Linked DNA regions of Homo sapiens: region 2 is linked to region 1. Evidence: fine-mapped expression QTL. A gene starts in region 1. The other region holds a variant in brackets. All regions are shown on one strand. Distances are between the middles of the regions. Region 1 holds the start of WFS1 (wolframin ER transmembrane glycoprotein). Region 2 overlaps WFS1 (wolframin ER transmembrane glycoprotein).

The links.
Region 2: its variant is fine-mapped to the expression of WFS1 in blood mononuclear cells (TOPMed, PIP above 0.99).

The regions. Positions count from the first base shown.
Region 1 is chr4:6,266,795-6,271,794 of GRCh38, reverse strand. WFS1 (wolframin ER transmembrane glycoprotein) reads right to left here and starts at 1,945. Exons shown (of 8, transcript NM_006005.3): 1 at 1,781-1,945. RefSeq lists a silencer at 1,858-1,967.
Region 2 is chr4:6,291,101-6,296,613 of GRCh38, reverse strand. WFS1 (wolframin ER transmembrane glycoprotein) reads right to left here. Exons shown (of 8, transcript NM_006005.3): 5 at 5,247-5,417; 6 at 4,617-4,697; 7 at 1,425-1,573. Among named protein-coding and RNA genes, the nearest start is that of WFS1, 24 kb to the right of the region's middle. The variant G/A (reference allele first, on the strand shown) is at 2,488.

The DNA.
Region 1 (5,000 bases):
GAAGAACCAGCAGGGCTGCGTGCAGCCAGGCCCGGATCGGGACCAGGGAGGAGCCTGGGGGTCGTCCAGGGAGAGGCGAGGGTCCTGAACCAGGGCAGGCATCCGAGTGAGGCTCAGGAGCCAGGAGAGACCCAACTGGGAGTGAGGAATGAAGGGCACAGGGGGTGGTCTGGTTTGTGGCTGGGGCTGGCTGGCTGTGGTGGTACCACTTCCGGAAGTAGGGAAGTGGGAGGGGAGGGGAGCCGTGTAGGCATAAAGCTCCCGACCTATTATGATTCTTATTGCCACCGTCAAGGATGGGTGTTTCGGGTCTGTCTGGCAGTGCAGACATCTCTGGGGGTTGAGACTGAGCTGAGGTCCCCTCTGTGACCAGCCCCAGAAGCCTGTCCAGCACTGGTCCGGGATGGGCAGGGGAGGCCTAAGTCAGAGACGCCCTCCATGCTCTTCCATCCTGGGAAAGAAGGTGAGATGGGGTCTCCCAGCCAACTTTTCCTGTGTCTGCGAAGGGAGGACAAACCAGCAGGTAGGGAAAAGAGGCTGAAATGTGGAGAAGCCTCCCTCCAAATCCCTGGTTGGATACAACGGAGACCCCATGGGAATCACAGACCCTTGGACACAGAAGTAAACAGGTGGCGACAGTGACAAAGGTGGCCTCTGGGCTTCCCGTGGGCTCCCTCTCCTGCTGCAGAGAACAGGCAGCCAGCACATGGGGTACCCAGGGCACAGCTCCTTGAGTGATGGATGCTGGCATAAGAGAAAGCCCTTTACAAACTGCAAAGCCCTGGGCCAAATGCCAGGGGTCACTGTCCAAGGTGAGGAGAGACGGGGCTGCTTCTGGAGAGATAGGGCAGAGGCCTCACACCAGGCTCTGCCCCATCAGCTTCGTGGTCCTGGGCTGGCACCAAACCCTGCTGAGCCTCAGCTTCCTGGGGTGTCAAACGGGGACTATAACTTCTCCGCCTAAGGCTACTGAGAGGGTTAAATCTGGGTGGTGGGGGGTTGCACAAATGCGACTTCCTTGGAATTCATAACATCATCTGCTAAGTGGGTGAGAGGCCAGGGCGCCATCACATCCAAAAGGGCTGGGTAGGATTCTCCAGAAAGTTTTCGTTGATCAAACAAAAAGCTAATGATCCAGAGGGTGGAGTTCATACGAGGCAGGGTCCAGGTGCTGCCACTGAAACCCCTCAACTCTCTACTGAGGGGCCCCGAGAGAGAGAGGAACTGCCACAGCGCTCCTAAGTGGGCTGTGGGGATTCAGAATGACCCCTAAGCTGCCCCTCGGGCGGGCCGGGTCCCCCTGGGGGACTGAACCCCCCTTCCCCCCCACAACACCTCCCGGGGGCCCAGGCGCGTTCCAACGGCCGGGCGGGCACCGAGGGCGGCCGTGGGTCCCGGGACCGCGGGGGAGGGGCATGACGGGGCAACTCGGGGGGGATGGCGCGGGGCGCGGGGAGGGGGCCTGCCCGCCGGCCGCTCCGCCTCTCGGGCCTGCTGTCCCGCCCGCGGCGGGGCTCCAGGCGACAGCGCGCGGGGGACCGGGGCGCGCCCCCCGGGTGACCCGTTCGGGCCCGGAACAGGGGTCGCCTTGCGCGTTGCAGAGCGGGCGGGACCCCCGGCCCTCCAACTTCGGGGACCTTGTCGGGACTTTGGGGCCAGCCACCCATCAGCTCGGAAGGGGAAACTGAGGCCCGAAGAGGACAGTGCCTCAGGGCTCTTGCCCGCCTCCTGCGCGCTGCCCACAGCCACCGCGCCACTGCCCCAGCGCCGAAGTACTCACCGGCCCGTGAGTGGGCCGCACGCGGCGCTGCGACGCCCTGGGGCCTCTGGGCCGGCAGAAAAGTTGTTCGGGAGCAGCTGAACGCGGCGCAAACGGGAGATCTGCGGCCGCGGGGGAGCAATCTGCACTCGCTGCTGAAGAGCCGGCTAGCGCGGCCTTCTGCACGAGGGGGCGGGGCAGGGGCGGGGCCTTCGGCCTCCCTCCACTCCAGACGCGGCCCCCCGGATGCGGCGCCAGCTCGGCCTGCTGAGTGGCCGGTGTAGCCGCCAATCACTCCACATCTCCGCCAATCACGGTGCGCCTCGCCTAGCTGCGGCCCGGCACTCCCCCTGCGTGGTTGGGCCCGAGGGGCCAGAAGGCGGGTCCGGCTCGCCCACAGCGAAAGTTTCCGAGCGGACTCGGGCCCCGGCCCCGCCCCCGCCCCGCCCGCGGAACGTCCAGTTGCTTAGCGAGGCCGCTCGCCTTCTCCTGTAACAGGTGGTTTGGACCCGTGGAAAAGGCTCCGGCCACCTTTCATCCACCACTCCGGCCTCAGCGTCCCCAACTGCAGATTCATTATATTTGCTGTTGCAATATTAACACACGTCTTGAGCGCCTATTCCGGCGCTGCAAGAGAGTCTAAGGGCTCCCCTAATAACAGCAGCAGAGATGGAAAAATGGGGCCTGTTTGAAACGAGTGTCTGCAGCCAAGTACTGCTTTCAGTGCCCAGAATCAAATGCAGTGTAGCAAGCTTTTCACACGGTGACTGTGGGATTCCTTTAAAGTGTGTGTTAGCCCAGGGAGTGGGCAAGGCTCAGGCAGTTTGGAGACTCTGGGAGTTTGGTTCCTGTCTGGGAGGCGTGGTTTGGAGATGAGGGCGAGGGTCTATCCTTGAGAGGCCCTGGGGAACGTGAGACCCTGCCTGCTCTGTCTCTGGTCCCCACAACCAACCTGAGCTACCTGTCCTAGTTATCACAGCAGAAACTGGGGCTCGGAGTGACTGTCAGAGATAATGCTTACCAACATGTTGGGAGCAAATATTCCAGATGGCTTTGGAGATGAGTTCTGAACACACTACTTCGGAGGACTTTTGTCAAAGCGGCGTAGTTCATGTCAGTCACCTCATTTGATTCTCCAGCTGCCCCCACTGCCCACCCCCGATCCCCAATGTTCACGTGTGACCCTGTGAGGCTCACAGAGGAAGGAAGAACACCTGCCGTCAGCCTCGCCTGCTCTGTCCAGGTTGGCTTAGGGGCTTTCACAGCTTTCAAGGGCCCCCCTAGTGACCCAAGGAGGGAGGTGGCACTGAGCCCATTTTTTATTGATGTGAAAATTGAGGCTCAGACATAGTTATTTGCCCAAAGTCTTGAAGATGTCTTTCCACCTTATCACACACTAACTGTAGAAAATTTGGAGAATTACTAAAAGTAGAAAGGAGAAAAAAAATCACTCAAAGATGATCACTGTTCACATTGTGAGATTTATGCACATTTAAGAAAATAATAAATATTAATGTGAACACACAATCACAGAGAGGCTGAAGCACTTCCCAAACCCTTTGCAGGGGCTCATTAAGCAGAGAGAAGAGGACAGATTGAAAAGTTCCTCCTGTGGAGGTCTAAGGGAAGAGAGGAAGTGCAACAAAAAATCTACAAGATGGCTTAAGGAGCCTCTATCAGAACACAGCAACACTGAACATACTCCACGGAGCTAAGAGACTGAAAAAGCAACAGGCAAATTCAGAAAGAGAAGAGTGGAGGTGAGGACAAATGAGCAAACTGGAAGATAATGTGGAGTAAATGCTTCATGATGTAGAGGAAAAGCACATGAAAATCATCAGGACAAAAAGCAGAGACTGGAAAGACAGTTCCAGGAGGTGTATTGCACAAAGGACAGGTACTCCAGGAAGAGCTGGAGGGGAAACAGAGGTGAGCAAAGTGCCAGGAGAACGTGTCCCTGGAAATCCCAGATGCCAAGGATAAAGAGACGGTCTTGCAGAGTTCCAGAAAGAACAGGTCACATCTAAGGGGAGAAAAGTTGAAGTGGTTCCTAGGGGACTTTGGAGCAATGTCCAGGGACTCTGATGATAGGATCAAGGATCCTTACCATGGCTACTACAGGATTCATCTATGTGGACAAAAGAGAGAAAATATCCACTGTGGCAAGACAGAGAAAGGACCTCAGTGATGTCCCCTTTCAGAGGAAGATATTCAGAGTTCCCCCGTCACCGAGACAGTTCAATCACAGTAGAGATTTCAAGATAGAGCAAACGCTCAGAACAGGAAGTGGTGTTAAGCAATGACCCTTGCAAAATATACAGTATGGATAATCCACATGTGCCTGTGATTTTGTACTAGCAGTGCCACATAAGGATTCTTAAAACATAAGCTACATGCTTCAAGAGAAAGTTGTATTAGCCTGGAACTAAAAAAAAAAATAGAATCTTATCACAGAGAAGTCAGAATATTTTAAGATCACATTTGGTTGAGGGGAGAAGGAGGAAGTAAAAGGATCTGATTTGGTGAGTGGGGAAGGAAAGCCTTATTGGTGGTTGGGAGGGGTGCTTCATTACCATTTACTTTTAATACATTAGCAGGGAAAGATTGGTTTAATTATGACTCTCAGCTGGGGAAGGAAAGCCTTATTGGTGGTGGGGAGGGGGCTTCATTACCATTTACTTTTAATACATTATCAGGGAAAGATTGGTTGAATTATGACTCTCAGGAATTGGAAAGTAGCAACTCACGGGAAAGAAGCAGAGTAGAACTCCTGAATTACTAGGTAGAAGTTGGGGGAGGGGTGGAGGGAGAGTAAGGAAGCAAAATTAAGGGGGAAAGTAAATAATAGCAAGAACAATAAGCTTAATAATAGTAAACATAAGATGAGATAAAATAAATAAAGCCATGGCTACCCGCCTTCGTAACACGGTGAATGGGCTGAATTTCCCATCCAAAGTCTGTAAGATTGGGGCAAAAACTAAAGTCCAGTTAAGCGCTATTTACAAGAAACACACCAAAAATATTGAGAAGTAGAAGATCACAGCAGACATTTGAAAAATGGCAAATTACTATTGATAAGGAAGAACGCATGATGGAAAGCATTCACGGGAAGAGTGGTATTATGTAAGGGTGCCAGGCACAATCCACAAAGATTTCATTGTCATGAATCTGAATGAGCCAGAAAATCTAGTAGCCACACACTTAAAGCAGTAACTGCTAGAAATACTAGAACTTATTAAAA
Region 2 (5,513 bases), 25 kb before region 1:
TCTTTGCCAAAACCATGCCAGCACCCCAGCTTCCTCATCTCCCATTAGTAAGGAGATGATGGCACCCAATCTGTGAATATGCTTGCCTAGGGCCAGCTCTGAGCAGACCATCAGTAAAAACCATGTGCTCCCTTGGTTCAAGTTCTTGGCCATCCTGGCCCATGTCTCAGAACCTCTGCAGACCGGTCGGTGTCATACCCTGGACATACAGCCTGTCCCAAGTGGGAGGAGCAGAGCCTTCCACCTGCCACCCTAAAGGACTCGCAGCTCTGGGCACTCGGGGGGCTCACACTCAGACCTGTCTGGCTCCGAGTCCCTGCAGCAGGGCTGCTGTGCCTGCTGCTCTTTGGGCTGAAGCTGCTCCTGCAGCACCTGGGTTCCTGCTCTTCCCCCCCACCGGAGGGCGGGCCTACTCTGACCTTCTCCCTGGCTCGAGGACGGTGACCTTTCAGCCTGCTGCCTGCCTGACAGTTGGTGGCCCAACCATCTCCTGGTCCTGGCCCTGACTCACGCGCCCATCTGAATACAATGATGGCAGTTCCTCCAGGTTCTCAGTCAGTTCAGAAGACAGAACCCCAGGGTGCCTGCATGATACTGCCCGCAGCCTCTGTGACAATCATCTGCTGGGGCCCCCTGTGCTGGCCTCAGCTTGGGGATCCTGGGTCAGGAGGCCAAGCTTCTGGAAATCCTGGTGTTCTCTGCAGAGTGAGACAGGCACACATCTAATTCAACCATGCGAGCTGAACTGTGAGCAACTCTGTGAGAGGCCATAGGGCCACATGGCCAAGAAAACAAGCTGTCAGGCCAGGAGTAGGGCCCGCACTGCTGGGCTTCCCGCTCCCCGCTCCCCGCTTTCCTCCTGCCGCCAAAGCTGCTCATGTCCTCCAGGTGTGCCCAATGGCACCCTGCACAAGTGTCACCCACCACGCTCCCACACTGGCCTCGCTCCCTGAGCCCTTGCAGATCCAGGGGCAGTAGGCGCCTCTGCACGTCCTCCCTGGCCTGACGGACACGGCACTTTGTTTTCGGGGAAGGCATCTTCAAGGCACTGGCCTCCACTCTGGACCATACATGGAGAAATCTGCTAAGTGATGAAGTCTAGATGAAAGTCTGCGTCCAGCCCGCCCCACTGCCCCCTACACTGCACAGAAAGACCCAGGGGCCCCTTGCTTGCCATCCTAGCACTCCTGCCCAACACCGCCCCTGGTTTCTGAGCCTGACGGCGCAGAAAAGAAAGGCCTCTCTCCCGAGGACACATCCTTATGACGATAGATGATGACCCAAAGGTACCAGCGGCACGGCTGTAAGACACTCTTTGTTAGGCGCGAACCTCCCCACCTGCAGCTTCCTGGAAGGTGCCCTGCCTGAGGTGCGCGAGTCCTTGGGAGGCAGGCTCCGGCCTGACCGGGGTCTTGGTCACTCACCTTCAGACGCAGTGGCAGGTCCTCAGGGCTCTTCCCCGCCAGCTCGTCATCATCTTCGTCGTCCTGCAGGAACAGGCTGCTGGGGATGACGCCCTTGGCGTACTTCTTAGTGATCTCCACAAAGTCATCCAGCGCGATGTAGTTCTTGGCTGAAGCATGAGAGAAAACAGCATGGGCGCCCCACACTGCAGCCCCACTGCCACCCTCACACAGAGCAATGGGCTGGGGACGGTGGCGTGGGGCCAAGCTAAGAAAGGAGCTGAGTGGGTTCAGGTGGAGGAAACCCTTCCCTGGGCGGCCTGAGGGTTGAGGACCAGGCTGGGTGAGGAGGAAGGGGGCAGGTTTGCCAAGTGCCAGCCTCCACTCCTGGCCCCCGGCCCCTGGGTGTGCTGTCCCCCACCCCAAGTGTCCCTCTCTGCCTAGCTCCTTATGCCTGGGGCCACTCACCCACACCTTTCACCCAGTTCACCTGCCAAGCCTTACAACATGCACCTCCAGTGCATGCTGACACCCTCCTCTTCAGCCAGCGTGGGGCTTCTCACAGCACGGGTGACAAGCCGCCCTGTAGGGCAGTACCCTGCCAACCGCTCCATCGAACATGATCTGCGCCCCCAACCCCTCCATTCAACGTGATCCACCCAGGGCCTACTGTGCACCTGCTAAACCGCTCCATCCAACATGATCTGCCACACACCTACTATGTGCCTGCTGACACCTCCATCCAACAAGTGTCTGCCATGGGCCTACTACATGCCTGCTAACCCGTCCATTCAACATGCGTCCTGCCATGGGCCGACTTACCCCTCCATCCAACATCTTCCACCAAGAGCCTGCTACGTGCCCACTGATCCCTCCATCCAACGTGATCCGCGAGAGCTACGTGCCCACTGACCCCTCTATCCAACATGATCCCCTAGGAGGGAATGAGGCCCCTGAAGGACCCCAGTTGCCGTGGTGAGATGGTGACCAGGAGGGCCTCCAGGGGAAGGATGGGAAAGAAAGGACCATGCTGGGGCAGGGCAGAGGGAGACAAGCCAGGGTGCTGCAGAAACCCTAGGGAGGA[G/A]GCAGGCTGCATCCAAGATGGCAGCCGTGATAGTGGGCGCTGACAGACCTCCTAATGGATCAGCTGTGTGTGCAAGAGGAGAGGAGTCGGGGCAGCACCCAGGTGTAGCTGCAGCAAAGAGATGAGGCAGCCTTGGGGGGGCCCACACAAGTGGCAGGTAGCACAGGCCTCAGTAGCTCACTGTAGACTGAGCTGTGAGGTGACCATGGGACAGCCAGGTACAGGAGATGTGGAAGGAGCACGGGCTGGATGCAGCCTGGGCGGGCTGGGGGCTTGCGGGTTCAGGACGGCGTCTGACACACGAGAGTGGTCACCAATGCCACCCACACATCTCCCTACCAGAGCACAGTCCCTACGGGAAGACCCTGGTCCCCACAAGGAAGGCCCCTGTCCTCATAGGGATGAATACCTTGGGCAGGATGTCCTGTCCTGAGAGACAGGACATCAGTCTAGGGACCCCAAGAAGGAGCAGCCAGTGTGGCAGCAAGGGCCCCGGGCCTGGTGGGGGAGAGGGCTCTAAGGAGAAGAGCAGTCATCTCTGCCCACGCTGCTGACAGATCAAGTCAGACAAGGACAAGAAGTGACTGAGCAAGGGGGGTCACTGATGGCCTAGACGAGCCGCTTTGGTGGAATAACATGGCAGAGGCCTGAGAGCAAAGGACGGAGGACGAGAGAAGGGGATGACAGACGCCCCTTTCTGGGAGTTCTGTTGGAAAAGCTGGCAGAGAAACAGATGATGCCTGATGGGAACGTTCTGATAGAGGGGAAACAATGGGGGTGCTGGGGCCCTGTCCCTGAGGGCCTGGCGGAGGGGACCACAGGCTGGCAGCGCTGACTCCTAACTCGCCCCCAGCAACAGCGACAGGGCCCAGCAGCAGGTGTGCCCGGCTCATCACAAACCCCTGTGGGACTGGGAAGTGAGGTTGGGGTCCAGACTCTGCCTGCAGTGCCCCCCAGGATGGAGACCCAGGCTGGGCTGCTCCTGCCCAGAGGCACCTCACTTCAGGACAGCAGGCACCATGCCACCTCGGTGGCAGGACACTGTCACAGCCTCTCTGGTCCTCGGGCTTCCTAGAGTCACAGATTTCTTCCCACTTCCATGTGAGGTGTTTCTTTGTCTCCCCCAAATGGAGCAGGAAAACAGCAGCGCAAGCACCCATGTCCGCCCACGCAGAGGCGAGGGCTCTGACCACACCCTATGGACGGTTTCCTCACGGGCCCAGTGGGAAGGTGGGATCTGTGCTCCCACCTGTACTCTGCCCTACATGCCACAGAGGCTTCTAGGATGGGCGAGGTCCTTCAGTCCCCTTGTCTGATCATCTCACTGTTCAGAAGGGGAAACTGACACCCAGAAAGAAAAATGAGACCTGCCCATGTCACAAGAAGAGTCTGTGGCAGACCTGGGTCTTGGCCCATCCCCCCATTGATACTGAGCCCCCAAGCCTCCTGCCTGTCTATCTTCTCCAGGACAGGAGCTCCCAGTGCCTCAGACTGCAGAGTCTACCCCACGTGGATGGAAGACAGTGAGGCTGGCCAGCTGCACGTGGAGGATGTGACGTCTCTTCTCAGTCTTTGACCACAAACATCCCAGAGGCACCCCCAGCTCAGTGTGCCCCAGAGACTCTATCCCCCAACCTAGGCTCTGCCCACTCTGTTCCCTGCCTACCTACAAAGGGCCTACGCTGGGGCAGAGCCCCTTCCACACCCTGCTGGGTCTCCTGGGCCTTTGCTCATGCTGTTCCCTCTGCCCGGAGCCCCTTCCCCTAATGCCCTCCTCATCCTTCCCCACTCAGGACCCCCCCGCCAGTCCCCACCCCCAGTATTTCCTTGTCCAAGAGGGACTGGCACATCATGGTTTCTGTCCTGGGTCTGCCTTCCCTCCAGTGCGTGCGCTCCAGGTGGGCAGGGTCTACTCCCAGCGTCCAGAACACTGAGCCCCAAACGGACCGCCTGAGATCCTAGCAGGGCCAGGATGGGGTCGCACAGGAAGGAGAGGTCGCCCTGCAGGCGCAGGCTGGGAGGCACGGGTGAGATAGGGCAGGCCAGGATGGAGTCGCACAGGAAGGAGAGGTCGCCCTGCAGGTGCAGGCTGGGAGGCATGGGTGAGACGGGGCAGGGGCTGCACTCACACTCGCTGCTGACCAGGCGCTCCAGCATGCGCCTCTGCTTCTGCAGGGACTTGGGCACGGGGCCTGGCTGCGCCCCTCCATCTGCAGGGGACAGGGTGGATTAACAGTCAGACAAGTTGACTATCTCCTCGTGCCCTGCAGCCCACCAGAAACTGGCGCACTGTTCCTAGGGCACGCCAGTTCCAGGGGCATCCTACGTTCTGGGGATCATAGGGCCCCCAGGGCAGGCAGAGCAGGGGCCACACCTCTGTACCTCCAGTAGCTGGGGTGGACTCAGCACCACGTAGCGTGCTCCCACTTGGTGATGGACACAGTCCGTCCCATTGGTAGACGTGGTCACAGAGCACTGGGCAGAATACCCTCTGGTTTATTCAATGAGTGAGCACTTGAGCCAGGGCAGATGCTGTCAAAATGCCACCCACACACCTCACCACTAGGGCACGGTCTCTACAGGAAGGTTCTGGTCCCCTGGTCCCCACAAGGAAGGGCCCTGTCCTCACAGGGAAGGTCCCGGCTCCTGTGGGAAGACCCAGCCCCTGAGGGAAGGTCCCAGCCCCTATGGGAAGGTCCTGGCTCCTGTGGGAAGGCTGGCGCCCAGGGAAGGCTGGTGCCCAGGGTGAATCCTCGCACCGTGCTCGTTGACCTGGCCGACATTCTCCAGCAGCTCCGCCACGGCCACCTGCTTCTTCTTCTTGGGGTTGAGCTTCCAGTACATGACCAGGGCTGCCTTGCGCACGGCCCTCTCCAGGTCGGTCTCGGAGGAGAGCTGCCTCACCTCCCGTTCGTTCTCGGACGTGATGCCTGAGGGATAGGATGTGGTCAAAGGCCTTGTGTGCCCTGCCTAGGCTTTCGGTGCCACTCTGACCCTGCCAACTCTGCCTGGAAGGCTTTCGAGCG